Regions from separate parts of the Homo sapiens genome. Here all the other regions are linked to region 1. Evidence: fine-mapped QTL for protein levels in blood plasma. A gene starts in region 1. Each other region holds a variant in brackets. All regions are shown on one strand. Distances are from middle to middle.

Region 1 (6,558 bases):
ATAAAGGAAAGAAGGAAAGAAATGAGGGAGAGAAAGAGGAAAAGGAGAGAGACGGAGGAGGGAGGGAGAAAGGGGAGAAGGAGGGCAAAGGGAAGGAAGGAAGGAAAGAAAGGAACAAAGAAGGAAGGAAAGAAGAAAAGTTAATCGCAACAATTCATTGCACTGGCAATAAATAAATTGTATATTCCTTCAACGCCTGCAAAGTCCCCTATATTTTCTCGAATTACTCAGCTCATCAAGCTGCATGGGTATTGCTCTTCTTCACAAAGGACAGCAATCCCTTGGAAACTGCTTTCCTCCCTCATTCTATCAGGCCTGTAACACTATCTCTGAGAATATCTAACAGAACAAAGCCATTTGGACACTTGGTCACTTAATTCATCCTCAGTTTTGTCAGGCCTCTTCTTGAAAACTTGGCTATCTCATATTCATGGCTCTCTACTGGAAGCAGCTGGCTGGGACAAGAAGTTTCTGATTCAGAGAGACCGGTGATTGAGGTGGGATTAATAAAGGGACATCATTATTTCCTCAGCTGAGCCCCCAATCAATTTTTCAGTTAGAATCCTGGACACATAATGTTACTGTTTCGTTCTTATTAGTCACATGTGTTTGGGGCTACCCCATCGTAACCACATGAGAGTACTGTTGGCAAAACAAAACAAACAGGATGTTTAATGACAAGAACAGAATTAGCTAATAAGTCAAATAACAAAATTTGTAGCCTAACCAATGCTATAAAAGCACTTGATTTTATAGAACCGAGGGCCCATTTTGCACATTACATATGATCACACCTCGAGCCGTGTTTTTATTTTGGTGGTGTTGTGAAAGGTGTGATATTTGGATTAGAGCATCATAAAGACACAGAAGCCATAACTGATTAGAGCATGTGATGAGAGGCAGGTGGGTGGGTAGGCAGCTGCAGCCACAGCAAATGTGGCCTGTCTCTTTTCTGAGGGTAACAAGAAACGAAAGGGCCGAGTGTGGTGGCTCACACCTGTAATCCCAGCACTTTGAGAGGCCGGGTGGATCATTTGAGGCCAGGAGTTCAAGACAAGCCTGGGCAACAAAGCAAGATCCCATCTCTACCAAAAAAAAAAAACAAAAAAAAAACAAAAGAAAAAACCTAAACGAAACAAAACAAAACAAACAAACAAAAAATTAGCCCTGTGTGGTGACCTGTACACCCAGCTCCTCCGGAGTCTGAGGCAGGAGTTTGAGGCTGCAGTGGGCCGTGATCATGCCACTGCACTGAAGCCTGGGTGACAAAGTGAGATCGTGTCTCTAAAACATTAAAAAAAAAAAAAAAAGGAAAAATGAGAGTGAGAACTGAAACAGCAGAAGGGCTCAAATCATCCTGTACATAGAAATCCTCCATCCAGGCCAGGCGCGGTGGCTCACCAGCATTTTGGGAGACCGAGGCAGGAGGATCACGAGGTCCGGAGATCGAGACCATCATGTCCAACATGGTGAAACCCCGTCTCACTAAAAATACAAAAACAAAATTAGCTGGGGGTGATGGCGGACGACTGTAGTCCCAGCTACTCAGGAGGCTGAGGCGGCAGAAAGGCATGAACCCGGGAATCGAGCTTGCAGTAAGTGGAGATCGCGCCACTGCGCTCCAGGCTAGGCCACAGAGCGAGACTCCGTCTGAAAAAAAAAAAAAAGAGAGAGAGAGAGAGAAAGAAATCCTCCATCCAGCCCTGTTGGTTGTGTATGTGTTGGAGGGGGTGGAGGGGCAGCCTTCTCAGGCTTTCAAGGAGGGCTCCCTAGCACCTCAGCTAAGATTTGTTTGTCTATACTATTAAAAGATAGACATAACTGTGTCCCAAACCAGCCTCCCCAGTTCCCACCAGCCAGAGCGCCTGACCTTGCAGGGAAGCTTATCTGTTTACCGTCCGAGCACTTTCAGGGATTCTAAAATGCCGTGAGTGGGAACCACTGCCATGGGCCATTTCCATGAAAATTCAATTTCGGGGATTAATTTGAACAGGTACTATTGACGTTTTCTCGTTTACACAAGATCAAAGAGTAAAAACAACCGGGCCTCTGCTTAACAGTTGAGGATTCTAGCAAAGTTAGGAAACAGGTTTCTATTTGTAGTAGAAGAGAGAGCAGGCAGAAAGAGGAAGATGGGAGCGGGGAGAGATTGGCAGAGATTCAGAAAGTTCGCGCTTGAGATTTTTACGTTTCTTACTCGTAAACGTCTATTTCTCTGGGTTTCTGAATGCAAAGACGAGAAAGTCTCAACAGTCTGCTAAACTAACACGGCCTTCGAATCCCAATCTGAACACAGTAGCTGAAACAAGCTGTCCACAAAGAGGAAAGCCAGAGGGGGCCAATTAGGAAGGAAGAAATTAAAGAAAAGAGAAAAGCCAAGATGAAAGGTCCAGCGCAAAGTGAATGACTCGACTGGAGAATGGCAGCCCTGGCAGGGTCTGCGGCCGGCTGCGGAGGTGGGGACGCGGCCGCGCGGACGAGTGACAGGTTGGTCCGGCGCAGCAAAGGGAGCGGGTGCGGCGGTAGGGCCTCTCCGGGGGCAGCGCGAGGGCCTCCCCCGGGGCAGCGCGGGCCAAGGCGGGGCCTCCAGAGCGGGGGCAGCAGAGGAGGGAGCGGAACGGGAGCCGGGCGGAGGCGGCTGCGGCAGGGGGAGGCGGGAGGCGGGCGCGCTAGCTCCCATGCTGGCCTCGGTGCCACTCGCGCGCCGGCCGCGCTCCGGGCTTCTCTTTTCCCTCCGACGCGCCACGGCTGCCCAGACATTCCGGCTGCCGGGTCTGGAGAGCTCCCCGAACCCCTCCGCGGAGAGGAGCGAGGCGGCGCCAGGGTGGCCCCCGGGGCGCGCTTGGTCTCGGAGAAGCGGGGACGAGGCCGGAGGATGAGCGACTGAGGGCGACGCGGGCACTGACGCGAGTTGGGGCCGCGACTACCGGCAGCTGACAGCGCGATGAGCGACTCCCCAGAGACGCCCTAGCCCGGTGTGCGCGCCAGGCGGAGCGCGCAGGTGGGGCTGGGCTGTTAGTGGTCCGCCCCACGCGGGTCGCCGGCCGGCCCAGGATGGGCGCTGGCAACCCGGGCCCGCGCCCGCCGCTGCTACCCCTGCGCCCGCTGCGAGCCCGGCGTCCGGCCCGCGCCCTGCGCTCATGTATGTAGGTTTGGCGCCGGTCTTCAGGGCTGAGGGTGCATGCTGGGTGTCCCCGCGCGGCCGGACGCGCTCCAGCTGGGTTCAGCCGCTCAGCTGCTCCGGAGGAACCCCCTCCCCCGCCCAAGTTTGTGAATATGGGCGCTTCGCCCAGTGTTGAGGTCGGCAGGGACCGGGCAGGGGGTCAGCAGGGCCGGGCACGTCCGGAGCCCTCAGGGAGGAGGGCTGAGGGGGAGGGGACAGACGCACCGGAGTGCGCAGAGTGGGGGCGTTCGGGGAGTGAGGCGGAGAGAGGCTGGATTGCCGGTGTCCTGCGGCGTCTCGGGCTCTCCCAGCCCCTTTGGGCGGCAGAAACTTTGGAATCCAGAAAGGCTGGCCGGGATCCAGCGAGTAGGAGGGTCTCGCGCCCACTCTGCGCCCTGGGGCCCCAGCCTCCCGCACTGCACACCTTGGTGCTGCCCGGGCGCTTCTGCTCCGCAGCCAGGACACTACAAGACTGAGCGCTGCGGCCGGCGACCTGGCTCCCAAGGCTCGGAGGGGCGGGCCGGCAGAGGAGCTGAAGCCCCGGGAATCCCCGACCCGGCCCTCTGGCAAGGGGCCGAGGGCATCCTTTCATGCAGCGGGGCTTAGAGAGCGGGGAGGGGGCGTCTGCTCCCGAGACGGGAGTCTTTTAAGAAGTTGTTAGAAATGAATCGTGGAGTCCTAGGAGAAGCTTTGTTTAACCTCCCCGCATTTTCCCAGCACAACCCCCTAAAGCAAATGAGGAAGAGTTTCCCTCTTATCTTCCTGTACATTCGTCCGTCTCTAACTCCACTGCTGAATTCTCCATTTAATAACCTTCGGGAAATGTGGCCAGGACCTAGGGAGGGACACCCTGGGTGCCTGAATTACGTGGTTCAAGGCAGAGCTTTGCAGGGGGGCGCGGGCCTGGCTCGCTGCGTTCCCTGGGCTCCGCAAGCCGCCCTTGGCCATCTCCAACACTAATCACGACTACATCAGAAACACGCCGGCCGGTGTCGTTCTTGGATTTCGCTTCCAATGTATCGCTCCACAGTTTGTGATGTCTAAGAACCCCGGCCGTGCACCGACGCTGGGCATGCTGCCCCCGCCCCCGTCGCCCAGCTCGTTAATCTAGAGCTATGCCGGAGCCCGGGTGGGGGCCGCGGCGGGCCGGGGCGCGCGCGGGCCGCGGGGCTCAGTTGTGCTGCTGTTCTCTCCGCAGGGACGGCGGCTCCCGGCTGGCGGCGGCGCGCCCCCGGGCTGTGAATGCGACTCGCCCCTCGGCCGCGCTCCCCGCCCGCCCGCCCGCCGGGACGTGGTAGGGGATGCCCAGCTCCACTGCGATGGCAGTTGGCGCGCTCTCCAGTTCCCTCCTGGTCACCTGCTGCCTGATGGTGGCTCTGTGCAGTCCGAGCATCCCGCTGGAGAAGCTGGCCCAGGCACCAGAGCAGCCGGGCCAGGAGAAGCGTGAGCACGCCTCTCGGGACGGCCCGGGGCGGGTGAACGAGCTCGGGCGCCCGGCGAGGGACGAGGGCGGCAGCGGCCGGGACTGGAAGAGCAAGAGCGGCCGTGGGCTCGCCGGCCGTGAGCCGTGGAGCAAGCTGAAGCAGGCCTGGGTCTCCCAGGGCGGGGGCGCCAAGGCCGGGGATCTGCAGGTCCGGCCCCGCGGGGACACCCCGCAGGCGGAAGCCCTGGCCGCAGCCGCCCAGGACGCGATTGGCCCGGAACTCGCGCCCACGCCCGAGCCACCCGAGGAGTACGTGTACCCGGACTACCGTGGCAAGGGCTGCGTGGACGAGAGCGGCTTCGTGTACGCGATCGGGGAGAAGTTCGCGCCGGGCCCCTCGGCCTGCCCGTGCCTGTGCACCGAGGAGGGGCCGCTGTGCGCGCAGCCCGAGTGCCCGAGGCTGCACCCGCGCTGCATCCACGTCGACACGAGCCAGTGCTGCCCGCAGTGCAAGGAGAGGAAGAACTACTGCGAGTTCCGGGGCAAGACCTATCAGACTTTGGAGGAGTTCGTGGTAAGATGCGAACGCCCGCCGGGCGACTTTGCACCTTCCAGGAAGGGGTGGAACAGCTTTGGTTCTGTGGTCCCCCACTTTGAAGAAGAGGTGCTCTCTGGTTCTGAGAGGTGGAGAGCACTGTGCTCACGTCCCTTTGACATGACCTCTCTTTTTCAGGGCAGAGGTAATCCTTCCCAGAGCACTGTGGCCAATCCATAGGGATTCCTTCGGTGTTCACTTTAAAAGGGCTTCATGAGGATGAAGCCTATGGCACTGAAGGGAAGGATCCCAACAGGTATCGGAGGGACTTTCAACATTAATGTACTGCTCCTAATTTGGGAATGTTGTCGGTGAAATTCTTAACCTGCTTTCAAACACAGGGTAATTTACGGTACCATTTGGGATATATTCTTCAACTAATAGCTAATTAAGGGAGACTATTCATATAAAAAGCCATTTCCCTAGATTATGTGTTTAGGGTATCATGCAAATGTTCTAAAAATTAAAAGAAAAAGAAAATATTTGCTCACTGGGTGCCAAATCATAGTGGATGGTGAAACCAACAAGTGCAGTTAATGGTTAAAAATTGTTTTGTTTCAGATGAGTAGTAGTAATGTTAATAATACCGGCCATCTCTCTAATGCCTACTGTGCGTCAGGATCCCGCTGGTTTTCATGTACGTTAGTTAAATCTCATCCCATGCTAGGAGGTGGATTATTATCCATTGTCTCCATGTTATGGAGAAGAGGAAACAGACACAGAATATTTAAATAATGTGTTGAAGGCAGAACAGCTATTAAGAAACAGATTCATATGTCAAACTAAGCAGTTCTACTCCATAGCTTAGGTTTTTAACCCTTATACTCTACTTGAACCAAAAGCCCAGCTCCACTGGGGCTTTAGTTTGGGTGAAGGTGCTGCACAGCATGCATGCACAGGCTCTAGGTAAAATCTCTGCCAGTGGGCTAGGGGCCTGAGAGAGACCTGCACAGGTGTTCAGTTATTCCAAACACCTCAAGGTAGGTTCAACCTATGGCCTGCCTGGACTTAGCCCATTGACTTACCAGGCCATAGCTGTCCTTTTCCCACCTGCAGAGGGCGTTATGGAACGTGCAGCTACTAAAGCAAAGGTTTAGGGAGGAATTCTGCTGGAATACCCCTCCTGGAATTAGCCTGTGAGATCTGCTAATTCCCAGGATGTGAAGCCCATGTAATTACTGACTTGTGGCAATGAATTATCAAGTGTTATATAAGTACAAAGCCAGGAAGGACAGATCTATATATAGTGTACAAAGTATGGAAAGAGTGCTGGAATTTAGAGTCAGGAAACATGGTTATTCATTCTGGCTTTACCACTAACCAGCTGCAGGACTGGAACAAAAGACATATGCCCTCTGGGTTTCTTTTCTCTTATCT
Region 2 (6,558 bases), 28 kb before region 1:
CTGTCATCCTCAGAACATAGATGAAGACCCACTGCAGCTATGAAAAGGGAACAAGAAGAAAAAACCTAGAGTAGAGGCTGAAAAAATCTTGGGCCCAGACTAGTAGAAACCCCCCTAACACAGTGGAAGAAAAATCACAGAGAAACCAGGGACTAAGCATTGCCTAATATGAAGGCTAGGCCAGGATAGAAGAAAGCACCTCTGTCCATGTCCCACCAGGCTAGCAAGCAACAAGTCACAAATAAGAGGATTCCAAAGCCAGGAGAGTGAAGTACAAAACACATAACAAAAACTGGTCCTCTCTAAGATGTAGGCATACATTGAAAGATGAAAGCTGGTGGTAGATCAGGATTATGAAGAAAAATCCCCTGGCAACCTAGCCCCCACCCTAAACTCAAAGTAATATAGAGAAATCAAACAGTCCGGGGTGAACTGAGGGTAATCATAGTAACAATAAACCCCAAACCCAGCTCAATTCCTGACTACATAGACTAAATGCCTCATACTAAAAGCCTAGCAAAACAGAAGGCATGCTCAGTTTGTGCCACAAATACTATTTACTTCCATCTCTTCTGTCCCACATAGGATGCCTAGCTTTCAACCAAAAATTAAGAGACACATAGAGAAGCAAAAAAATAAGATAAATTCCTAAAAAGAGAAAATAAAGGGAAACATATATGACCCAGAAGTAGAAATGATCAAAGAAATAAAGTAACTACTATAATAGGTCAAAAGATTGCATGGAAAGGGTAGACACATGCGTGGACGGATGGGGAATTTTAGAAGACACATGGAAACTACCAAAAAGAATTAACCAGAAATGCCAGAAATAAACCTTAACATTGAAGCAAAAATGAAAAATACATGGATTCAACAGGCACATCTGTAAAATTGACAGGGTAAAGACTCAGTAAAACTGAAGATACTTCAAAAGAAATTATCCAAACTGAAATACAAAGAGAATAAAACAGGGGGAAAAAATAATACAGACTAGAGTATTCAAGAGGTAAGGAACAATATCAAGCTATCATGTATGTGTATATGATTGGAGTCATAAAAGAGAGAGAAAGAGAATGGGGCAAAAGACATATTTAAAGGGATAATAATTGAGAATTGTCAAAAAGCATAAGAGACACAAAATCACATATGACAGAAGCTCAGAAAATATTAAACAAGATAAACACAAATAAGTAAACAAACAAAACACTCCTAAATAAGTGATATACAAACTGGCATAAACTAAAGATAACGAGAATATCTTGACGGCAGACTTATCATCAGAACGTTTAAAGTGAGAGAACATGAAATGATATTATTAAAGTGCTAATTGCAAAAACAATGAACCTAGAATTCTACACCTAGTGAAAATCTTTCTAAAAAAATATGAAAGAGTTTTTCAGACAACCAAAAGCTTAGGAAATCCATTAACAGCTGACTTGCACTCCAAGAAATGGTAAAATAAATTATTCAGAACAAAAGAATAGAATATCATATAGAAACTTGGATCTAAACAAAGAAATAAAGAGTGCAAGAAGTGATATAAATGGTGGTAAATACTCAATCTTTTTTTAAATTTTTAATTGTTCTAAAATGTAATTACTTGTGTAAAACCGCTAGAGTAAAAATGCATTGTGTGTTATAGTATATGTAAATATAGAGTATACAGAAAGATATCAGAAAAACTGGGAGAAAGAAATGGGGAATTCAGTTGGGAGCTCTTTACACTATAGGAAATTATATAATATTTGATGATTGGATATAGTTAATTCAAAATGTATATCCTAAACCCTGGAGAAATAACTAAAAATCATTTTTTAAAAGCACTAAATGATAACCCAGTAGTAGAAGCAAAAGAGCATCATTGAAAATATACTGAATTAAGGCAAAGAGTAAAAGTACAAAATGATAAAGTGAAGAGATGTAACAAATTTTAAAATAATTAGCAAAATAAATCATAATTCAACTATATCAAAACTATATAGAATATAAGTGGTCTAAATATTCCATTTAAAAGACAGAGACCATAAAAGCAGATGAAATAATAAAACCTAAATATATTATATATAAAAAACACTCACTTTTAAATCTAAATATATAAATGAATTAAAAGTTTAAAGATATAAAAAGATTACTATATAAATCAAAAGAAAGCTAAAGCACCTATACAAATTATCAGAGAAAATAGACATTGAAACAAGTAGCATTGCCAGAGATCAGGAGGGTCATTGCATAATTTTCCTCCTAACAGTGGTGCTTCAATGTACATGAACTGAAAAAATAGATAAAGAAATCCACAGTTGCAGTTACAGACTTTAATACTCCTTTCTTAGTAACTAGTAAAACAAATAGACAGAAAATACATGAATATATAGATGACTTGAACAACAGTATCAACCAATTTTATCTACTTGATGAATTAGAAGCACAGAACACTTCCAACAACAGCAAATACATATTTTTTAAGTGCACATGAAATGATCACCAGAATAGAATTTATTCTTGGCCAAAAAACAACCTTTAACAAATACAAAATATTAAAATTATACTAACAATGTTCTTGGACCATAGTAAGAAAAAAGTAGAAATGAACAGAAAAATATATACATAGGAATATCCAAATATTTGAAAAATACTTTTACATAACCCATAGCACAAAGAAGCAGTTACACAAGATAATAGGAAATACCTTAAGTTTAATGAAAACAAAATCACAACGCATTGAAATTTGTGGGATACAAAACCAGTGCTTAAAGAAAAATTGATAGCATCAAATGTTTATATCACAAAAGAAGAAAAGTAAATCAGTTCTCTAACTTTTCACTTTGAAAAACTGGAAAATGAATAACAAATCAAATCCAAAGCAGACAGGAGGAAGAAAAATAAAGATAAGCACAGAAATCAATTACACTGAAATAGAAAAGCAATGGAGAAAAATCAATAAAACAAAAAACTGATTCTTTAATAAACTAAAATTGTAAAACCTCTAATCAGAGTGCCCACCTAAAAAGTAGGGAAGAAAAAAATTATAAACATCAGGAACAGGTAGTGACATCACTACAGACTACACACATTAGACTAATAATAAAACTATAAATGCCACACTCATGAATTCAACTGTTTAAATGAAATTAAATATTTTTAAAGGAACCGACTGCCATACTCTGTCAAGAACAAATAGATAACCTGAATTTCTTTATATCTATTTAAATTAATTAATTAATAATTAACAGACTTCCAGCAAAGGAACTCCAGAAACAAATGCCTTTACTGTCCCATTCTAACACATATTTAAGAACAAAATACAGTCATGTGTTGCTTAATGATGGGGGACACTGTTCTGAAAAATGTGTCAGTAGACAATTTCATCATTTCGT[G/A]AACATCATAGAATGCACATATAAATCTAGAAGGTATAGCTTACTACACAGTTAGGCTATAGGATATGGCCTATTGCTTCTAGGTTATAAACCTGTACAGCATTTTACTGTATGGAATACTATAGGCAAGTGTAACACAATGGTAAGTATTTATGTTTCCAAACATACCTAAACATAGAGAAGGAACAGTAAAGATAATGTTTAAAATATAAAATATATAAATATTTAAATATTTAAATATAAAATATAAAAAATATATTAAAAATATATAAAATTTATATATATCATATATATAAATATATACAAAATTTTATATATATTTATATATTATATATGTATATATAATATATATAAAATAACTTATATATATTATATATAAATGTATAGAATTTTATATATATTTTATAAAAATATATATATAATTTATAAAAATTTATATCAAATATAAAAATATATAAATATAAAATATAAAAAATGGTACACCTATATAGGGCACTTACTATGAATGGATTTTACAGGACTGAAGGTTGCTCTGGGTGAGCCAGTGACTGAGTGGTGAATGAATGTGAAGGCCTGGGACATTACAGTTTATTGCTGTAGACCTCACAGACAATGTACACCTAGGCTATTCTGAATGTATAACATATTTTTCTTTCTTCAATAATAAATTAATTTTAGCTTACCTTAACTTTTTTACTTTATAAACTTTTTAACTTTAAACTTTGTGCCTCTTTTATAATAACAGCTCAAAACACATTGCACAGCTATATAAAAATATCTTCTTCTTTCTTTATATCCTTATTCTGCAAGCTTTTTCTATTTTTTAATTTTTTCTAACTTTTTTGTTAACTAAGACACTGTGTTAGGCCATTCTTGCATTGTTATAAAGAAATATCTGAGGCTGGGTAATTTATAAGAAAAGAGGTTTAATTGGCTTATGGTTCTGCAGGCTGTACAGGAAGCATAGTGGCATCTACCTCCAAGGAGGCCTCAGGAAGCTTTTACTCATGGCTGAAGCAGGCACATTACATAAGGAGAATGGGAGCAAGTGTAAGGTGGGAGTAGGCACCATGCACTTGTAAACAGCCAGATCTCAGAAGTCACTCACTATTACCAGGACAGCACCAAGAGGATGGCACTAAACCATTCATAAGAAACCCGCCTCCATGATCCAAGCACCTCCCACCAGGCCCCACCTCCAGCACTGAAGATGACAATTCAACATGACATTTACATGAGATTTAGGCGGGGGCAAATATACAAACTCTATCAGAAACAAACACACTCATTAGTCTAGGCCTACACAGAGTCAGGAGCATCAGTATCACATCTTCCACCTCCACATCTTGTCTCACTGGAAGCCCTTCAGGGGCAATGACAGGCAGGGAGCTGTCATCTATGAAAACAATGCCTACTTCTGGATGCCTCCTGAAGGACCTGATTAGGCTGTTTTTTTATAAGTAGAAGGAGTAAACTGTAAAATAATGATTAAAAGTGTTGTATAGTAAATGCATAAACCAGTTAACATAGTCATTTATTATGATTATCAAGTATTAGGTAATTTACTTAATGGTATTTGGTATACTTTTATACAACTGGCAGTGCAGTAGGTTTGCTTACATCAGTATCACTACAAACACATGAGTAATGCTACATTATGAGGGCTATGATGCCACTAGACGATAGGAATTTGTCAGCTCCATTATAATCTTATGGGGACACCATAGTGTATACGACAGTCCATCATTGACCAGTATGTCCTTATGTGGTGGATGACTATCATACCGAATCTATGCAAACTCATTCAAAGTATGAAAGACAATGGATACTATAAGAAAACCACAGAACAATAGCATTTGTGCACATAGATGCATAAATCCTCAAAAATTCTTACAAATAAAATCCAGCAATATGTAAAAATGCTAATATGTCATGATCAAGTATGTTTGGCTGGCTCGAAATCTGAAAGTCAGTCAATGTAATTCATCTTATTAATAGACTAAAGAAGAGAAAATGGATCATCTCATGGATACAGATAGAACACCCGATTAAATTAAACATATATTCATGATAAAAATGCAAAGCAAATTAAAAATTGAAGAGAACTTCTCCAGTCTGAAAAGGGACTCTAGGCCAGGCGCGGTGGCTCACGCCTGTAATCCCAGCACTTTGGGAGGCTGAGGCAGGCGGATCACGAGGTCAGAAGATCGAGACTATCCTAGCTAACATGGTGAAACCCCGTCTCTACTAAAAATAGAAAAAATTAGCCGGGCATGGTGGCGGACACCTGCAGTCCCAGCTACTTGGGAGGCTGAGGCAGGAGAATGGCATGCACCTGGGAGGTGGAGCTTGCAGTGAGCTGAGATGGTGCCACTGCACTCCAGCCTGGGTGACAGAGCAAGACCCTGTCTCAAAAAAAAAAAAAAAGAAAGAAAGAAAGAAAGAAAGAAAGAAAGAAAGAAAGAAAGAAAGAAAGAAAGAAAGAAAAGAAAAGGGACTCTAAAAAACAAACCGCTACAACAGAATACTTATGGAGGAAAGGCTGCCCAGTTTTGCCCTTAGTTCAGTCAAAAGGCAAGATGTTCATTCTAACAACTTTTGCATTCCAGGTCTTAAAGTAACTTGAAATTAGAGAGGTTCCCCAAATGCCCTCTTCTTCACCACCTCCCTCTTTCATCTACCATCCTCCATCAAGGGCATATAAGCAAAGAAGGACACCAGAAGGACCTGTGGCCTCCAGCGGGTGACAGGAGGATTATGGGACAGAGGAGCAGGTGAATCACCCCATCAGGCTGCAATTTTGCATCTTGGGCCCACTGAGAGGGTTGTGGCTTTGATTCTGTCAACTGGAGTATTACTGTAATGGGTAAAACATGTTGATTACTATAGTGCACTGGATGGAATGTGATTCTTTAAGAGTGTTGAGTCTGGAAATTCGGGAAGGCCTATTACTAGTGTTGTTGGAAGAGAAAGTGGGAAAAGCCACTGCAAGGTGAAAGGCTTTCACGGACAACTCAGTAACGAATAGCTGTCTGATCATGATGCCTGTGGGACCGGGGATAAGTCACCGCAATCTCCTGTGTTAATGTCCTCATCTGTGCAATCGGCATTTAAACCAAGGGAGGCACTGTTGCTTTAATATGCCACATCAATAGGCTGAATAAGAATAATTACAGGAATTTAA
Region 3 (6,558 bases), 56 kb before region 1:
ATTGTATAACGGGACTTTGTAGTTATGTAGATTGGAACATGTATCTCTTCTGAGCTTCCTTTTTTTTATTTTTTATTTTTTTGCTTTTAAGAGAAAAATACTAATACCTACATAATAAGGAAGTTGTGGGTTCTAAAGAAAGAGTATAGTAGGCATCATGCCTTTCAATATGTGGGAACCATGAATATTACTATTGTGTGGCACCACCTTGTTAAAGTGGGCACACAGTTGCGACACATCGAAGGCTTCTCCACATAGGCATGAGCCACTATCAATCCTTTTGAAAACACAACAATCAGGAAGAAAATTGGATTGTTTCTTAAGAATCAGTGACTCAAGGAATAGGTTTTTAAAAAGCTACAGCGTTTTCTCCTTGTTCAGTTTGTATATAGCTCTGCACTGTGAAGACTGAAAGTTATTACTACCTCATGACCTGCAATAAAGAAGCTGGGAGCCCTGATCAGTGCTGTGGAGACATGTTTCTAGCCCAGTCAGATGAATGTTCTTAATTGCCATCCATCTTCACATACCCTGAGACAGGTTAAGAAGCCGCTGACTGTATGATGTGAGATCCCTGGCTTCTTCTTGCAGGGCATTGAGGAAGAAGGAGGGGAGAAAGAAGGGAGAGGCCACACATCTACTTTTCTGCTTCACCCCCTTCTTGTAATAGAGTAGATTAAGCATCTCCATCCAGAACATCATCAGTTTAGGTAAACATAAACTTGGCATTAGATTCGTATTATGCTTAAGAAGAGTCCATGCTAATAAATGCAGCTCACATCTGGCAAAGATTTTGTCACATACATTTTCATGCTGTGTATGCTATAACCTTTTATATTCCTTCCAAAATTAAAGCCTAAAACACCTAATCATCCATTAAGCATAAAGAAGCAGAATCAGTGTATTTGGATGTAATTTGGATGTAATTTCTTAAGCACAAGAGTCTTATATTTCTCCCAAGCTCTTGCATTAAATGTTAAGGCAAATCTTCTAGTTGTATATGCTTTAAAACTATGTGGGAAAAATATGTCAAATTTTTAAACTACATTGGAGAAAAACACAATATGTTGTTCAGATTTGTCCTAAAAAAGTATTATGGATGTGAATATTTGGGCAATATGTTTATCATTTTTTCAAGTGGACAAAAGCCAGGATGATTAGCAAATTTATTGAATGCCAGCATCTCAACCGACCTAAGAAGCAGTGACAAAGATAGCAGAATGAAAACTAACAAGGATAAAATTTCCTCCACTAGTTTGGTAGGTGCGGAGAACTAGTTGTTTTTTTTTTTTTTCTTCCTTGTACCTATTTGAAAAAACTATTTTTAAGTTTCTCACACCTAGACCTACAATAAAGGACACAAGAAAGGGATTAGATACAGGCAACCCTGGGCCAGGACCACTGGAGGCTGCCCATGTGGCACATTGCTAGAGGGCTTTAGGGTAGCAGGCCAAGGGGATCTAACGCATGCATAGTGTGTCCAAGATATGTTCAACAGGAAGTCAAGGAATGTGCCAGGAGCCTGCAGGTAGAGCAGTAAGATAGTCACAAAACTTTAGGAGGCTGAGGCAGGTGGATCACTTGAGGTCAGGAGTTCGAGACCAGCCTGACCAACATAGTGAAACCCCGTCTCTACTAAAAATACAAAAAACTAGCCAGGTGTGGTGGTGGGTGCCTGTAATCCCAGCTACTTGGGAGGCTGAGGCAGGAGAATCACTTGAACCTGGGAGGTGGGGGTTGCAGTGAGCTGAGATTGCACCATTGTACTCCAGCCTGGGCAACAAGAACGAAACTCGTCTCAAAAAACAACAACAAAAAAGATAGCCACAAAAGCCTCAATAAACTGTGGTGCCAAAGCTGGAGACAGGAGGAAACTAATGAGAGGGCATCACAGTGAAGCTGTGGCTCAGGGCAGGTGGCAGGTGCAGGTAGGCCTGTAGGAAGGCATGGCAGGCCCAAGGCCACACTTGCAAACACAGCCTCCATAGTACAGTGCCTGTGTATGTGGGCCTTGCACCAAACCAAGGACAAATTCAAAAGATGCTCTGTTCTCCTGAGTGATTACAAGCAAGCCAATTAGTTTGGGAACCATCATCTAATAGAACCATAAAGTCTTCTAGAAAGACACACATTACAAGTGTACCAACTTCAGTCATGGAGATAACATCTCTTTTGGCCTTATTCTATTGGATAAAAGTCCATGCTCAAGAGGAAAATCTAACCAAAGTATGTGAGCCCCAAGAGGCAGGGATCCTTGCGTACTATCTCAGACTTTGACAGCCACACTGGTCTTTCTTAGAAAGAAGTAGGAAAGGAAATGTTAAAACAGTCAAACAAAAACCAAAATTCTAGCTACGTTCTTCTTAACCATTAACTTGTTTCACAGCTATAACTTGTGCTTCATGATTTATGAGGCTAATTTAATCTCTTGCCTGTTTCAAACTTTATTACAAAACTCTCAGGCATAAGAGAGTTTATAATCTTTCCTTTTTCAGGGATGGTGGGTGACGTAAACAGAAACATCAAGACTTTACCCTGGGCCATCAGGGTATGAAAACAGGAGGCTGAGGCACATGCCTGCAATCTCTGGCCAATGCTACTCTGTCTATTCAGTTCATGCTAAAAAAGATCTCTCTACTATTATGACTTAGACCCAGCAATCCCATTACTGGGTATATACCCAAAGGATTATAAATCATGCTACTATAAAGACACATGCACACATATGTTTATTGTGGCACTATTCACAATAGCAAACACTTGGAACGAACCCATATGTCCCTCAATGATAGACTGGATTAAGAATATGTGGCACATATACACCATGGAATACTATGCAGCCATAAAAAGATGAGTTCATGTCCTTTGCAGGGACATGGATCCAGCTGGAAACCATCATTCTGAGCAAACTGTCACAAGGACAGAAAACCAAACACCACATGTT[C/A]TTACTCATAGGTGGGAATTGAACAATGAGATCACTTGGACACAGGGCGGGGAACATCACACACTGGTGCCTGTCAGGAGGTGGGGAGCTGGGGGAGGGATAGCATTAGAAGAAATATGTAAATGATGAGTTGATGGCTGCAGCAAACCAACATGGCACAGGTATACATATGTATCAAATCTGCATGTTGTGCAGATTTATTATAACTTAAAGTATAATAAAATAAACAAATAAATAAAAAAGAATAGCACATACAATTATGTACAGTACATAATACTTGACAATAATAAGCGATTATGTTATAGGTTTATGAAAAAAAAAAGAATAGACTGCCATGGGGGACAGAGGGTTACTCATTACTGGAAGTTTCAAGCAAAGGCAGAACAGCTAGCTGTTTAGGATACTGGAAAAGGATGAAGTGCTTATACTATGTGAATTTTTGATGTCTCATTTCTAATGTAGACAACTGGCAAGCACATTAGCACGGCTGGAACACCTAGTATTTGCTAGACACTATTAGAGATACTTTACCCAGGCGAACGGTGGTGGTGGAGGTTTTAATTAAATAATGACACAATTCAATAGTGCCTCCATTTTACAGGAAAAAGAAAGAAGATTCAGAAAGAAAAAGAAACTTTTCTGAGATTCCATATCTAAAGAATGTCCTGGGATTTAACCAGAGCCGGTCAGGATTTTTATTATATTTCATAGGAGGGTTTGTTTGTTTTGCTTCATTACACAATACTACCTTACAGCCCTCGTACATGAGAAATGATTCCACATGATCAGAATACGAATTTGATTTAGTTTGGCCTTTTTCACGAGTGACTAATCACATCACCCTATGATTCAGAAGGCACAGCAAATGAGGAAACAGTTTCTGTGGAATCATCTCATCCCAGGAGCTGGGCTGGAGGGGAATGAGAAAAAGCAAAAACTATAAAAACAGCTTTGAAGGTGGAAATAAAAAATACACTCCTAAACAGGAATGGTATTTTTTCCTGGCTCCCAAATCTTTTTCAGTCAAGAAAATGGTAACTTGACAGGGGTTGAGATGAGAAATGTGAGAAATAAAGGGAAGCAGGGGTGGGGAGTATGGAAGATTGCCAAAAATCTAGATTCCCCAGAATCAACGAAGTATCTCTACTCAACTCTTCAAATTCCCTGGCTTACCTGAAGACAGAACTTAACTTTCTTAGAAGTATGCTGTTACTATGTTGCTTGGAAAGGCTTTAAAGATTCCCTAAATCTTCCCTATGATGTTTTTGATTTCTGGAGGAATCAAGAATGAAGAGAAAAAATAAAGTAACAAAGGAAAAAAAAAGATCTAAGCTAGACAATAATCTCCTTTTAGCTACTGTCATTAAAAAAATGCCAACCATTAGGAATGAGGAGACTGCAAAGAGGGTGGTCAACAGTTGTGAAGACAGAGGGCACAGAAGGTGAGGCTGGCAGAAGTCAAACTTCAGGAGAGCAGTGGGACAGAACCTCATTTTTGATCTCCAAATTCCAGTCTAGAATTATACATAGTCTTTCAGCCACCTTTTCAGTTGATGTGTGTGACGTGATTTTATGTGTTAGACATTGTTCTAAAGGCTGGTATCAGATTTACAACACTGTTGTCTTCAAGAGACCCAGGACTGAAGAAGAGGGCAGGCTGATTAGCAGACGGACAAACCCAGTGTTCTAAGCAATGCAACAGTGGGGTACTACCTAGGGTGATACAGGAGTAAGGAGAAGGGTCTGAGCTCCTCATGTGGTGGGTCAGGGGTTAAAATAAAGAGTTTGTATTAACCAAGCAATTAATCCCATAATGTTAACCTTCTTAGCCATATTCAGTAAAAACAATTATGTTAATTGGGCCAGAATTACATTTTACATCGAACAAGGGACTAAGTCCCTTAGCTAAGGAAATTGTTTCTGCAGGCATACTGCCTGGGTGGGAATCTCAACTCCAACATTTACTGTCTATGGAACCTTGCACAAACTATTTAAATTCTCTGATCCTCAGTTTTCTCAACAGTGAAAGGGGCATATCAATAGTCTTACCTCATGAAATTTTTATGAAGACAACAAAAGGAACATGTTTATCATGGTACCTGAAATATATCATGCCTTATATGAATGTTGGCAATTATTTTCATTATAAATTAGTGTCTTAGTCTGATTGTGTTTTATAAAGGAATATCTAAGGCTGGGTAATTTATGGAGAAAAGATGTTTCTTTGGCTCACAGTTCTGCAGGCTGTACAAGAAGCATGGTGCCAGCATCTGTGTCAGTGAGGGCCTCAGGCTGCTTCCACTCATGGTAGAAGGTGAAGGGGAGCTGGCATGCTGAGAGATCACATGTCAAGAGAGGAAGCAAGAGAGAGGGAGTGGGGTGAAAGGCCCTATTTAACAACCAGCTCTCACAAGAGCTAACGGACCTGATAGTTGATAACTCATTTTGTGAAGATGGCACCAAGCCATTCATGACAAATCTGTCCCTAAGTCTCCAACACCTACCCTGGAGATCAAATTTCAACATGAGATTTGGAGGGGACAAACATCTGTGCCATAGCTATTAGACACTAAGACTTGAATTTCTTCTCTCCATTGAAGGTTTGTAAGCCTCATAATGTTCTGGATAGAAATCTCCTTCATAGAGTGAATGGATCAAGATGATGGAGGCAGGAGCTCTAGGTTCAGAATATGTTGTCTTTGGAGACGACAGCAGTGCTGGACTTCTTCTGGCTCAATTGCAGAAGATTGATTTTTTTTAAGGACTCATTCCTGGTATAGGTACAAACATTATTTTGGAACTTCTTGGCCTGCTGGGCTACAGATTGAAGAAACTGTACATATTTCTCAGACGAGCCAATAACAGCATTAATATATGTGTGAAAAAACCCAAGTCTTTCATACTATAGTGTCTCTAGAAAAGAAAATAGGCTGAGCAAAAAATGTGTGAATTTTAAGACGTTCAACACCATGAACACTGGATCTGCAGTATCCTTGCATTGCTCATGGTCTAGCAATATTCTTGCATTGCTCATGGTCTAGCAAAACCACTGACACCCATAGCAAGCAATTGCCCATTCTTCCAGCTTCTCACTCTGTTATTTACAATCTTGTTTATAATCTGACCTCACCACCTCAGTCATTATGCTCTATGACACTTTCCTGGTCACTTTCATTGCTTCTGTCCTTAACAGAAGCTTTAGGTGACCCTTCTGTCTACATGTCAGAGTGAACAACCCATCCCATGTCTAGAGGCCTTGGCAAGTGACCTGTCAAGAACAAACCCCTTCTAGACGTGTTCTATTACAGCAAGCAATTCTAAGATTTTCCAAGTGTGTTCATCAGCAAGAATAGCTGCACAATCTATGAGGCCTAGTGCAAAATGAAATTGAAGGTTCTTTTTTCAATACTGCAATAGCTGAGCAGTAAAGCAAGCACGAGCCCTTCCTAGGCCAGGTCCCTGAGCAATTGCCTAGGTTACACACCCATGAACCCAGCCCTGTCAGTTAGGGCCCAACCAGGAAACCAGAAGCCACCTTAAGTACTCGAAATGAAGAGAACTGAATTCAGGGAGTTGGTTACTCAGGTTATGAAAATGCTAAGAAGACTAAGAAA
Region 4 (6,558 bases), 69 kb before region 1:
CAAGGTAATATACTAGGTCTTTAAGTCATTTCAAATGTAGGTAAATTTCCTCTGTTTTACAAATGGACAATTAAATACTGAAAGACTTTTATACTAGTTATAATTCTCAGCTTCATTCTAATTTTTTGTAATTAATTTGTAATTATGTTTTGTACTCAAAACTATGGTCTAATTTATTCATGCTAAATTGGGATGGATTTTTTAAATGTTAAGGGTTTAGTATTACGAATATTTTAACAATAATATAAACTCCACTTAACCAAAGTGCAGTATCATATTAGTGCATCATTCTCTTCTATTGTATATTTTTATTTCAATTTCTTAACCAAAGAGTACAGGTTTTGGAATCTCAGGAACCAGACATAAACCTTAGATTTCTCTAACATAAGAGGGATAAGCAGTAGCTTTGAAACCAGAAACATGGGATTAAATCCAACATGTCGTTTCTTCAGCTGTGTTATTTGTCCTCTCAAAAGCCCGTTTTCCTTGTCTAGAAAATGGCAGCGACATTGCTTTCTTCATGAGATTATTGTGAGGACAAAATGAGGTAATGGTTATAAATCCTCTTGCACTGTGACTGGCACACTAAAAATGCTAAATTACTCTTGGTTCCTTTTCCTTCCCTTTAATCATACATACAAATAACTCAAGTTTATGTAGCTGAACCCCTACAGAATTCAGTCACCATCCATATGTCTCTGTGATCCTTGACTCATGAATAACCCACCAACTGAAATTTCTCAATCCTCCATAATGAGTCCATCTAAATCAAGGATTGTATGTCAAAAATGATAGTACAACAGAAACATGCAATAAAGTTCTTTTTTCCTGGAAAAATGCATTTGACTTTTAGTCCCTAGAGTGAACCCCGCTACAGGTGGAAGTCAGCAGAGTGAATGATTTTCTCACAAGAATTCCCTTGTGTCTTCACTTGGCAAGCACTTTACAGAACACCTGCTGCCCAGATGCTGGGGCTGCAGATGACATGCTATCATCTATTTCCAGAATTAAATCAATATCCAAAATATTCTGTCCCACTGAATGGTTGATGTAAAGGAGTCCACCCAGCTCTAGAATATTCAATGATAGAAGAATACAAAATCCTGGGACTTCTTCCCCCACTGAAGTATTTATCAACTCTGTGCTGCCTTAGGTCTAATGCTTGTGCCTTACAGTCATCCTTAGGAAGGTGTTTATACACCCATGTTTGCACACATGTACAAAGTTCCCAATGCCCACCTGAACCAGTCCCCTAAACAGCTGAATTTCAACTTTCTTTGTTTCTGGTTACGCACATTGAATGTTGGCTGTGAAAGAGCGTGTCCTTCCAGAATATCTAATTTGTAAACCCACCTATTGCAGAAGTAGCATCTACATCTTCCCTTACAGCTGGGCACTGGGCTGTCTGTGAATGGTAACGAGGCAAATGTTTAGTAGAAAAAGCATGGAATTGGCCAGATCTGGGCTCAGTTCCTGCCTTCATCACTTAATCAATGCTTTACATTGGATTCAAAAATTAACTGGTCTGAACTTCAGTTATTTACAAGGGACAGCAAAACCAGCCCCACAGAGTATTCTCACCATTTTCGCTTCCCTTTCACATATAGATCCCGTCTGTTTTTCTGTGACTTCTGCTCGCTGGTCTTTTCCATCCTGGTGACTCTCTCTCCTTACCATTATTTTTCTTCAGATAATCTCTCCTCCTTAGGCCAGCATGACCTAGCATTTCTGTATCACTACAATCTTTTCAATCGGAAGAAACAAAAAAGTAACAACTATCTTAGATCAGAAGGGAGCTTTATCGGCTGAGTGATTGAGCAGTCTGGAGGTCTGCAGGCTTCCTGCCCTGTCTGCTGGAGGCCATAAGAGCTCCAGCTGTTTCCCTGCAATTCCTCCTGCCACCCACATGTGCTGCCTTTGTCCCAAGACAGAGGCTATCAGTAGTAACAGGGCTTCAAGCTTCACATCTGGGGGAAACTATATGTCTCTTCTCATAGCTATTATAAAAACATGTTCAACTTCACTGTGCGTGGATCATCTCAAGACACGAACCCTTCTCCTGACCCATCACTAAGGCTGGGGCCCATATTACCTGATTGGTCTAGGTTAGGTGGCGTCTCTCCTAAATGGCTGGTGGGTCTTCCCACCTAAGAACACGTGACTGGCATACACAGTGACGGGAATGGCATCAATTTGATGAAGGAAAATACAACTTCCTCTATATTCCCTCACCGGTCAAGTCTCCTCTTTCAACATTTCCTGGTTCTATCACTTTTATTCTGATGCTACATCCTTCTCACTCAGTGTCATCCCAGTGGACACCTGGAGAAAGTTCCACGGCAGGTCTGCTGCTAGATGACCAGTGACTGTGCTTCCAGAGAAGGCCACCCATCTGACTGCCCTGTAATGTTTAAAGAATTTGCTTAAGTTGTGGGGGGAAAAAAACCACAAGCCTCTTTATATGCCAGATATGAGTACGAACGACTTCTGACTGGTTCCAAAGTAAACCCATCTACAAAACTAGACTTGCCACTGGTGAGATGACACTGCATTGTAAAAGAGAATACTTAAGGGGAAAAGTCCCATAACAGAGGAAACCTTAATTACACTATGTTTTATTACTCACTTCATTACTTCCTACCAAAAAGGCATTCCAAATGCATAGTATTATGGAATTTACTAATGATTTAATTTAAATGGGTATGTTTTGATATAAAAGGCTCTTTACAGTATGATTATACTTATACAAAATGAATGGCTCACATCTGTAATTCCAGCACTTTGGGAGGCCCAAGGTGGGTGGATTGCTTGAGACCAGAAGTTCAGACTAGCCTGGCTCACATGGTGAAACCCTGTCTACTAAAACTACAAAATTTAGCCAGGCATGGTGGCACACATCTCTAGTTCCAGCTACTTGGGAGGCTGAGGCACAAAAATCGCTTGAGCCTGGGAGGTGGAGGTTGCAATGAGCCAAGGTTGCGCCACCGCACTCCAGCCTGGATGATATATATATAAATAAATAAATAAAATGCCATGTGTGGGTGGTGTAGACAAAGGAACACATAAACAAATTAGAGGTGTTCATCTTTGGAATGGTGGATACATTATTATTAGTGAAGAGGAGAATAAACATGAGCTTTTAGATTATAGCATATCCTGTCAACACATTCCATAGAGAGATTGTCACCTTATAATGAATATTCAGTCTATCAATGTGACTGTTTTATATGAGTAATACCTGTTCTCTTTAGTTGTTTTCTTAAAATAAAATAAAAAATAAAACACCAATACCTAATCCCTCAAATATAGAAGATGGTACCTGTAATATTAGTCCTGACTGTGATTGGTCAATACAGTGTTAGTTATCATCTCACACACTTTTAGAATGTTTTATTTAGCCCTATCAAGCCTGCACTATGTAAATAGTCCCGCAAAAAACTAGCAAACATGCTACATGTACACACAAGATAATGAATTTTAAAACTTCACAAATAAATACAAATACATCTCTATTTGAAAAACTACCATTCTCATCAATGAATAGGGCCCTACCTAACAGAAACACCTACTACAGGATACCCGATAATTGTATTTTCTCCTCAGGAAAAACTGAAGCTAGGAGCATCTTCCTGGCTAAATTCCCAGACATCTGATATTTTAGTTTTATTACAAACCTTGCCCATTTTAATCTGATTCTCTCTTCATGATACATGAGTCTCTTCTTGCAGGGTAAGTTCATCTGAGAGCAGTTCTCTCATTTTAAATTAATCGGCTGCCTTCAATGTTATCCAGATTGAAGTGTTGATTGTGTACTATTTATCTTCTTAATAACAAAAAATTAATCTGCAAAGGAAATATCAAAGGAGATGATCTGCTCTCCACTGTGAGAGAT[G/C]AAGTGGTCTGATGTTCTCACTGAGAGTCATATTTAACTCCTTATATTTATTTCTGGGTGGTCATAATTTTATTTAAATTTGATTGCTTTCTAGACTTTATGTTTTTGACTTTATTCCCAGAACACCCATCAGATTCACTCCAGGTCTCACTAAGACCAGAACAGCCCACAGTCAGGAGTACTGAAAAGCCCCTCCCAGTCTCCACTTTTAATCCAACCCCCAGCATCCTTTTTAGAGCCACAGATGTGACCTCCACACCAAAAGCAAATGTTGCAAAGAGATGCTCAGAGCTACAAAACACTCCTTCCTTCCCCACTGGTCAGTGCAACCCCTTCTTAACAGCCGCTTATTCTCTCATTTCTCACACCAACCACCTGCCCTCCTCCTTTTCTACAGTGTAATATGGGAAGGCATTCTCATTCACAGATGCCAGATAGAGCAAGGGAGCATAGAGCTACCCACATATGGCTAAGAAATTAGATCAGATGTTCAGGATTCTACTTACCAAGAGGTCATGCCTGCATTTCATTGGAGAACAGCAATCTAGGGTTTCTCCTATGTTAGGATAAGAGACATAAAAAAAAAAACTATAAAATTCTGCTCAAAGGAATAAACAAAGATGACAATGGGGTCATGGTAGAAATGTTAACAGAGCCCTAGCACGAAGCCCTGGTCTACATATCATTCCTTAAAAAAATGATTCAGCCATTCAACTAGTGCCTGCCAAGTACTGACACCATGCCAAGTCCTAGGAGCCCGGCAGTGAACCACAATGTCCCAATCCTGCCCTCAGGTGACTTAGAGAACATGATCCATGAGCCCAGCACTAATTCAGACTGTTAGAGAGGGCTTGTTAGACGCCAGACATTGCTCTGACTGATTTGTTAGTTCTTTTAATTCCCACAGAAATATTTTACGGAAGTTATTATTGCTGTCCTTATGTTACAAATGAAAAAAGATATGCGCAGAAAGTCTAAACAATTTGCTTCACAATGCACGGCCAGGAAGTTCTGGAGGCAGGATCTGTGCACAGGCATGAGTGGCCCCAGAATCCATGTTCTTGACCCTGCTATATCAGGGGTCTTTGCCATCCTCCACATTCCTGTTACAGTGCATCCTCACTAAACAAGACACGATCACGTTAGGGCTGAAAGTCAGGGAAGAAATTATCTTATCCAAAACTGTAGGTTTTGTGGAGACTGAAGCCCAGAGAGGGCTGATCACAGAATAGGCACTATGCGTCATGTCCCTATATTTCACACCACTGTCTGCATTAAAAACCAGCTACAGCAAAGGTGGTGTTTCATGCTGATTGAACCCCACAGCCTCTAGATAGTAGAATGAATATGTCTGAAGAGACTTTCTGTATTTTAGAGTTTCTCTGTTTTTCTTTTTCTTTACCTTCTATGTCTCCTAATGCCTTGTCTATGCTCTTGTAGCCTTGGGTCTTGACAAGCGGCCACGACATAGCAGAAAGTATTTTACCAACAAACAATGTCCAAATCTCCTAAATGCAGGGTAATTTCTTCCCCTGTGTCCATCATGGATAAGTAAGTAGCTGGCTTTCTGGAGAACTCAAGAAGATTAGAATGTGCCCCAAGCCTTAGTTACCTCCTGAGTGCAGCTGGGAGCCTCCAACAGTGTGGAGCAGTGGAAGAGGAAAGTGAAGGTAGCATGTGACCCCAGCTCAGACCAAGCCAGAGGTGCACACACAAGGCTCTACTGCAGCAAATGTTGGCTTTGTCATTTCCTTGGCCTGTATGTCCTCACTTTCACTTTACAACTGTGAGTAAAAGTGTGTGATCTCTAGAAGAGTGGACTATCTCCTAACAAGTGCCTGAAACTATAACTTTCATTGTTAGGAAGATTTAATCTGATGTTGGTTACTTAAGTGTTTTCAGTCGGTGAAAATGTATCACTTTTGATCTGTGCACTTTCCTGTATTCCTGATATACCTTATAATATATATGAGATCTGAAATCACACAAACCTAAGCCTAAATTTTCAAGAATTCATTTCTACCTTTGATTCTGGGCAGATGTGCTTATCTGTTCTGGACTCTATTTATAAATAAGAAAAGTAGCAACCCCCAGAGCTCTCCTAGGAAAATAAGAGATTTTCACACATGCAAAAACACCTGGAACACAGCAGCACTTTTTGATAATTCTCATAAGGAAGGAACCTGAGTCTTCTTTACCTTTTTCCCAAATGCCCACAAAGGAAGATCTTAAAAAATGTTTTATTTGAATTACCAATTACATGATGAATTTGCTTATTTTTCTCAAAGAGATAAATCATTTGGTATAAAAATGACAAGAGAAGTTCACTAAGGACAATACTGAATTTGAGAGCACAGATATTCCTCACGCAACGCAGTGGTAGACAAGAGTCACTAACTTAATAGTCTATTCTCCTATTGATGTTGAGCCACAAAGTCCTGCTGAGTTTGTTAACATAGTCCTTCAAGACCTGGCTCTAAATGGGCCTTCTCAGGCCAGCAGACATGGCATGAGACAATGAGTATTTATGTCTGTAATTACCTGATTTGAATAACTAATTGCCCCCTGTTGCTTGTGTGGCTTGGGCTGTGCCAGTTGTCTAGATATGGGGCTGAGAGCCAACAACAGACTAATGCAAACTCCCTCTCTGCAGTTCATTTGCTGAA
Region 5 (6,057 bases), 62 kb before region 1:
TCCTGGATAATTAAGTTGACATTAGCCAGGGAGAAGTGGGGAAAGGGATGGTGGGGGCAGAGCCCATAGCGTGGCCTTTGGAGCAATGGGCTGGCAGGTCATTCTGGCCACTCTATTGAAGACAGAAAGCACAGGATGAGAGACAGGCAGCCAGGCAGGAGATGATGGCAGGAGAGGTGGGGATGTAGCCTGGGGAAGGCTCTGATACCAACCTGTTAGTGCACTATCTCCTGGAAAACCAGAACCTACACAAATGAGGGAATTGGAAGTCGCTTCTCTTAGTCACTGAAATTTCTCTTTTCAGTGGACCCTAAGAAAAGAAAAGCCATGACAAAGTAAAAAGAATATAAACATGTCAGGTGTATGCTATTAGATGTACAAGTCTAAGGAAGCCAAATACCTTGATTGCCTTACATAGCGAATATTCACTTTTGCAAGTATCTGTAGGGGGATATAATCATTCACTCATTTCTTCACCTGCCCACCTGACAAACAGACCAAAAACCTAGGATCCTTCACTAGTTATTTGTCATTAGGGGACTCCTAGGAAATGAACCCTTTTCTTGTCTGAGGAGCCTCTCATTGTTTGCCCTTGGCAGAGGCAGTTCCCCACCTTTTCCTAAGGAAGCCATCAGAGAGCAGATCATCCCTCCCACATTAAGCAGCCAGGAGATGGGAGGTAACCTGGGCCCAGTCACCATCTCACTCCAGACATAGCCAAGACTATGAACACAGGGGTAGGGGAGTGAGGCAGAGGCCCAGGGCAGGTGGAGATTCTAGGGAGTGGCTGCAGAGCATAAATGGTGTGGTCATGCCAGTGGTGCCATCCCAGCCAGGCACTACCTCAGCTGCCTGACTTCCCGGGTTCTAGTCCTGGCCATTCTCCCAGCCTGGACCACAACACCTCAAGAGGACCCTGAAAACTCCCAATACCTACTGAATACATGTATTTTCTGTTTCAATTTACAACCAAGAACACTGACTACACTACACACCTTTCCATCCTGAACCTGGAGGTGTCTGGGATAGATCTGCCCTGTCGCTCCATTGTGTTCTCTTGATTCCAGCCCTACAATTAATGTCCCGCACTGTCCTGGAGTTTACCCAGTGCCAGACTGGTGGGGTGCTATGAAGCACTCCTAAGTTTCAACAGAACAGAAGGGAAACTGAAAGTTGCCCAATAATTGTTATGATTTTTTTTTTCTATATTTATACCCCATGGCCCAAGTAAGAAAGAGAAAGAAAAATGAACAACCATTTATTTATCTCCTTCTATGTTCAGGGCCTTGTGCATATGTGTGTGTGGGTGTGTGTGTGTGTGTGTGTGTGTGTGTGTATCCCCTTTACATACATTATCTCATCTAATCATTCTCTTTGTAAGAAAAGTATTATTATTTATGTTTACAGAAAAAGAAACTGAGGCTCAGAAAATGTCAGGTGATTTGCAAACAACATAGAATCAAGAATATATGTGCCTAACTTCCAAACCCTACTCTATTTCACCAAGCCACAGTTAAACTAGAGTCAGGGAATTTTAGTAACCTGTGATAAATGCCATTTAACAGCGTATGAAAAAGGCAGGGCAGGATGACAAATGTTGAATTAAGAAGACAAGTGTTTGAATAGACATTTCTCCAAAAGATATACAAATGGCCAATAAGCACCTAAAAAGATATTCATCCTCATTAGACATTGAGATGATGCAAATCAAAGCCTCAATGAGATCGCACCTCATCCCTACTAGAATGACTAAAGTAGATAAACAGAAAAACAAGGGTTAGCAAGGATGTGGACAAACTGGTATTCAATGCTTTGCTAGAAGAAAAATAAAATACTTTTACCGAGTAATGAAAATGTTCTAAAATTAGATTATGGTGATGATTTCACAATTTTGTATCAATAGTATCATACACTTTACACAGGTGAACTTTACAGTGTATAAATTGTATCTAAATAAAGCTGTGCAAAAAAAGGAATGCTATTAATTTAATTGATAATTATACCATCTGACGTATTTCCTACTCAACTCTTTAAAGTTTGTTTTATAACTGACTTTCTTTATAGCTGACCAACCTGAGGTTACAAAGTTAAGTGACTTCCTCAAGGTAACATAGTGAATGAAAAATATTTAATTTTGAGAGGTGACAGCGTGCTGGCAGCCCTCACAGCCCTCGCTCGCTCTAGGTGCCTCCTCTGCCTGGGCTCCCACTTTGATGGCACTTGAGGAGCCCTTCAGCCTGCCGCTGCACTGTGGGAGCCCCTTCCTGGGCTGGCCGCGGCCAGAGCTGGCTCCCTCAGCTTGTGGGTAGGTGTGGAGGGAGAGGTGCTGGCGGGAACCGGGGCTGCGGGTGGGGCTTGCGGGCCAGCATGAGTTCTGGGTGGCTGTGGGCTCCACGGGCCCGCACTTGGAGCGGCCGGCCAGCTCTGCCGGCCCCAGGCAATGAGGGGCTTAGCAACCGGGCCAGTGGCTGCAGAGGGTGTGCTGGGTCCCCCAGCAGTGCTGGCCGACCAGCACTGCGCTAGATGTCTCGCTGGGCCTTAGCTGCCTTCCCGCGGGGCAGGGCTCAGGACCTGCAGCCCACCATGCCTGAGCCTCCCCCACCCTCCGTGGGCTCCTGTGCTGCCCCAGCCTCCCCA[A/G]TGAGTGCCGCCCCCTGCTCCACGGTGCCCAGTCCCATCGACCACCCACCCAAGGGCTGAGGAGTGCGGGTGCACAGCGCGGGACTGGCAGGCAGCTCCACCTGCAGCCCCAGTGTGGGATCCACTGGGTGAAGCCAGCTGGGCTCCTGAGTCTGGTGGGGACTTGGAGAACCTTTATGTCTAGCTAAGGGATTGTAAATACACCAATGGGCACTATGTATCTAGCTCAAGGTTTGTGAACACACCAATCAGCACCCTGTGTCTAGCTCAGGGTTTGTGAATGCACAAATCCACACTGTATCTAGCTACTCTGGTGGGGACTTGGAGAACCTTTGTGTGGACACTCTGTATCTAGCTACTCTGGTGGGGACTTGGAGAACCTTTGTGTGGACACTCTGTATCTAGCTACTGTAGTGGGGATGTGGAGAACCTTTGTGTCCAGCTCAGGGATTGTAAACGCACCAATCAGTGCCCTGTCAAAACAGACCACTCGGCTCTCTGTAAAATGGACCAATCAGCAGGATGAGGGTGGGGCCAGATAAGAGAATAAAAGCAGGCTGCCCGAGCTAGCAGTGGCAACCCCCTCGGATCCCCTTCCGCACTGTGGAAGCTTTGTTCTTTCGCTCTTTGCAAAAAGTCTTGCCGCTGTCACTCTTTGGGTCCACACTGCCTTTATGAGCTGTAACACTCACCGTGAAGGTCTGCAGCTTCACTCCTGAGCCAGCCAGACCACAAACCCACCAGAAGGAAGAAACTCGGAACACATCCGAACATCAGAAGGAACAAACTCCGGACACGCCACCTTTAAGAACTGTAACACTCACCGCGAGGGTTGGCGGCTTCATTCTTGAAGTCAGTGAGACCAAGAACCCAGCACTTGAGACCAAGAACCCACCAATTCCGGACACAATTTGACCTAAGCTGAAGGCAGCAATCCCAGGTGCATCTGTCCCTCCAGTCACAGATAAGTAAGTTCTATCATGTTTCTCAACAAACAAATATTCAAATGAAGGAACCCGATATGTTTAGAAAATTTTATATTTAGTCCCACAATCAGTTTGTGACGAGCATATTATTATTTCCATCTTGTGGTTGAGAAAAGGCTCAGAGGAGATGTTTTTACATTTTTCTCACACAATTAATGAGCAAATTCCCCAGGTGCACTTTTCTTTGGCTTTTAAATGGGGACTCTTTCCTACTGTATACACCATGCTTCCTTCCGCAGAAATTTAAATCCCTAAAACCTATTCGCTTCTGAGATGTCAAAAAGCTATAAAAAATTCAATTGTTTCTTCATAATTTGTACAGAGAAACAGGTACCAAAAGATTGCAAAAATTGTCAGAAGTACTATGTGTATCAATGATGATGCTCATTCAGTTCTCAATCCAGTATTCATGAAAGTGTTTAAATGATACAGCACTACCTAGAACTTACATTTAATTTGGTTTTGTTTAATTCTTGTGAAAGATATTTAATCTTATCTTTTCTTCAGTAGAAATGCAATAAGACAAATGCACTGATGGTATAAAAGCAAAAAAAAAAAAAAAAAAAAAACAGCATTTAAAAATAAATTCAAAGACCTGTCCATACAAGAACAGGTGTTAAATTAGCCACAAGAAAACTCTCATGTTACTTCCCGAATGTAATACTATAGAATTACAGGGAATGCATCATTAAAAAGGGAAAAGCTTTTTAAACTCCTGTTCTCCAGTCTAAATTAATAGCTTCTATGTTTATTGGTTCCCAGAAGGAAACAAGCTGGGTTTGTTTACTCCTGCATATGAATAATCATGTCCATCATGTCCCATTGGAGGAAAACATACAAAAATGATTAATGTTCCTGGTTATAAGAAGTAAACAGAATGCACAGTCAGAGGTAAGGAGGGAGGGAGGCTTGAAATGGAACACAAGTAATGGAATTTGCTCTAGGAAATTTCGATCTGCTGGTAGGGCCCCCCAGGAGACAATAATCCAAGTGCAAAGTTCAATTCAATACAAGAAAGACATAACCCCTACTCTGTGCCAACCAGCATAGAATAAGAAATATATTCCTGCCTTACGGTGTTTAAGGTCTCACACCAATCCCAATGCAGTACAAAGATTTCTACATTTGGAGAGAAAGGATACAGGAAAGTGGAAAACGGAAGAAGTAATTGTCAAGATAAGATGACCTTTACATGGATCTTACGTAAAAACACTTAACATTCGCAAATCTTATTAAGCACGTTAAACTAGAGCAACCAGTGATTTAAATACACATAATCTTCATAAAAACCCTATGAGATATTATTGCCCATATTTTCCAGATAAGAGCACTGAGGTTGGAGCAGTTATGTGCCCGAAGCTTAGGTCTGTGTCTACCGTGAAGGGCCATTTGACACGCAAAGCCAATCCCCTAAGCCCTGTGGTTATCATCTTCTCTGAAAGGAGTAGGGGGACTCAAGGCTCAGGAAAATCACAGCAGGAATGCAGGCTGGCAGGGAAACAACATGAGCTGATGAGGCATGCTCAGGAGCCACCAGCCTGTGGGAGTCACTGCGGAAAAATCACCAGTGGGGAGAGGGGAAGCAAAGGATCAGAAGAGACAAGACCCTGGAAAGTGCTGCAAAGAATTTCTAACAGTCTAAGGTCACTGCATAGCAAACAATCTCAAATGTCACTGGCACACAAAACTCAGTAATTATGTCTTGTTTGCATATTAGTGGATAAGCCAGGATGACTCTCCTCCATGTGTCCTTCAACCTTCATGCAGGACCAGCTGCTACTGCAGAATGTCCTTCCCATGGCAGTGGCAGAAGGATGAGGGAGCTCTCCCAACTGCACAAGCACAAGGGAAGCCCCTGCTTGTGCCAAGTCAGCTGTTAACCCAACGGCCAAATCAAGTCACAAGGCACAGCCCAGTGTCAAGGGGTGAGTGAGTACACTTTGCTTTTGTGGTAGGAATACCGCAGCAAAGAGGCAGAGGGTATGATACAGTGAGGGGTGAAGAACAGGGGCCAATCATCCAACTTACCACAGCATTAAAAGAATTTAACAACAGGTAGCTTCTGGGGAACCACTGACAGCTTTTACTCAGGGGATCAAAACCGTCAGATTAGTTTTGATGGGAGGATAGATTTAGAAGAAGTAAGCTTTTGGGATGCATAGTTAGGGAATAACTTTTTTCCTTTCCTAAAAAAATTTATGAAATAGAAAGTTTCCATTCTGGCTGAGAAGAATAAATAGAATCCATATACTTGACTCAAGCAGATGACTTCTGTGATTTGGTACTGAAGATTTGTCAAACTCCGGGAAATTTGTGAGTCTATAAATGTTCCTGTAGTTTTTACACATGTGTGTTCAAAGAAAAAGAAACCAAAAAGGCACTAGGATCAGATTTCAAACTTGCTCAAAGTTAATCAATATGATTATATCTTTGT

Which allele goes with the higher level. Alleles are on the strand shown, and positions count from the first base shown. The strength of an association depends on the size of the effect and on how common the allele is.
With allele G in place of A in region 2, the plasma level of the protein whose gene starts at base 2,667 in region 1 is higher (moderate association).
With allele A in place of C in region 3, the plasma level of the protein whose gene starts at base 2,667 in region 1 is higher (moderate association).
In carriers of allele G in region 4, the plasma level of the protein whose gene starts at base 2,667 in region 1 tends to be higher than with C alone (moderate association).
For the plasma level of the protein whose gene starts at base 2,667 in region 1, G is the low allele of the variant in region 5 and A is the other (strong association).

What was found. PIP is the posterior inclusion probability: the model's chance that the variant is causal. Protein levels are from antibody-based Olink assays in UK Biobank. Linkage for the fine-mapping came from a reference panel and not from the study's own genotypes, which makes the PIPs less certain.
Region 2: its variant is fine-mapped to the plasma level of the VWC2 protein (UK Biobank, PIP above 0.99).
Region 3: its variant is fine-mapped to the plasma level of the VWC2 protein (UK Biobank, PIP above 0.99).
Region 4: its variant is fine-mapped to the plasma level of the VWC2 protein (UK Biobank, PIP above 0.99).
Region 5: its variant is fine-mapped to the plasma level of the VWC2 protein (UK Biobank, PIP above 0.99).

Annotation. Positions count from the first base shown.
Region 1 is chr7:49,770,972-49,777,529 of GRCh38, forward strand. It overlaps VWC2 (von Willebrand factor C domain containing 2), which reads left to right and starts at 2,667. Exons shown (of 4, transcript NM_198570.5): 1 at 2,667-3,142; 2 at 4,362-5,160. The coding sequence starts at 4,465.
Region 2 is chr7:49,742,966-49,749,523 of GRCh38, forward strand. No RefSeq gene overlaps it. Among named protein-coding and RNA genes, the nearest start is that of VWC2, 27 kb to the right of the region's middle. The variant G/A (reference allele first, on the strand shown) is at 3,375.
Region 3 is chr7:49,715,218-49,721,775 of GRCh38, forward strand. No RefSeq gene overlaps it. Among named protein-coding and RNA genes, the nearest start is that of VWC2, 55 kb to the right of the region's middle. The variant C/A (reference allele first, on the strand shown) is at 2,945.
Region 4 is chr7:49,701,645-49,708,202 of GRCh38, forward strand. No RefSeq gene overlaps it. Among named protein-coding and RNA genes, the nearest start is that of VWC2, 69 kb to the right of the region's middle. The variant G/C (reference allele first, on the strand shown) is at 3,893.
Region 5 is chr7:49,708,938-49,714,994 of GRCh38, forward strand. No RefSeq gene overlaps it. Among named protein-coding and RNA genes, the nearest start is that of VWC2, 62 kb to the right of the region's middle. The variant A/G (reference allele first, on the strand shown) is at 2,638.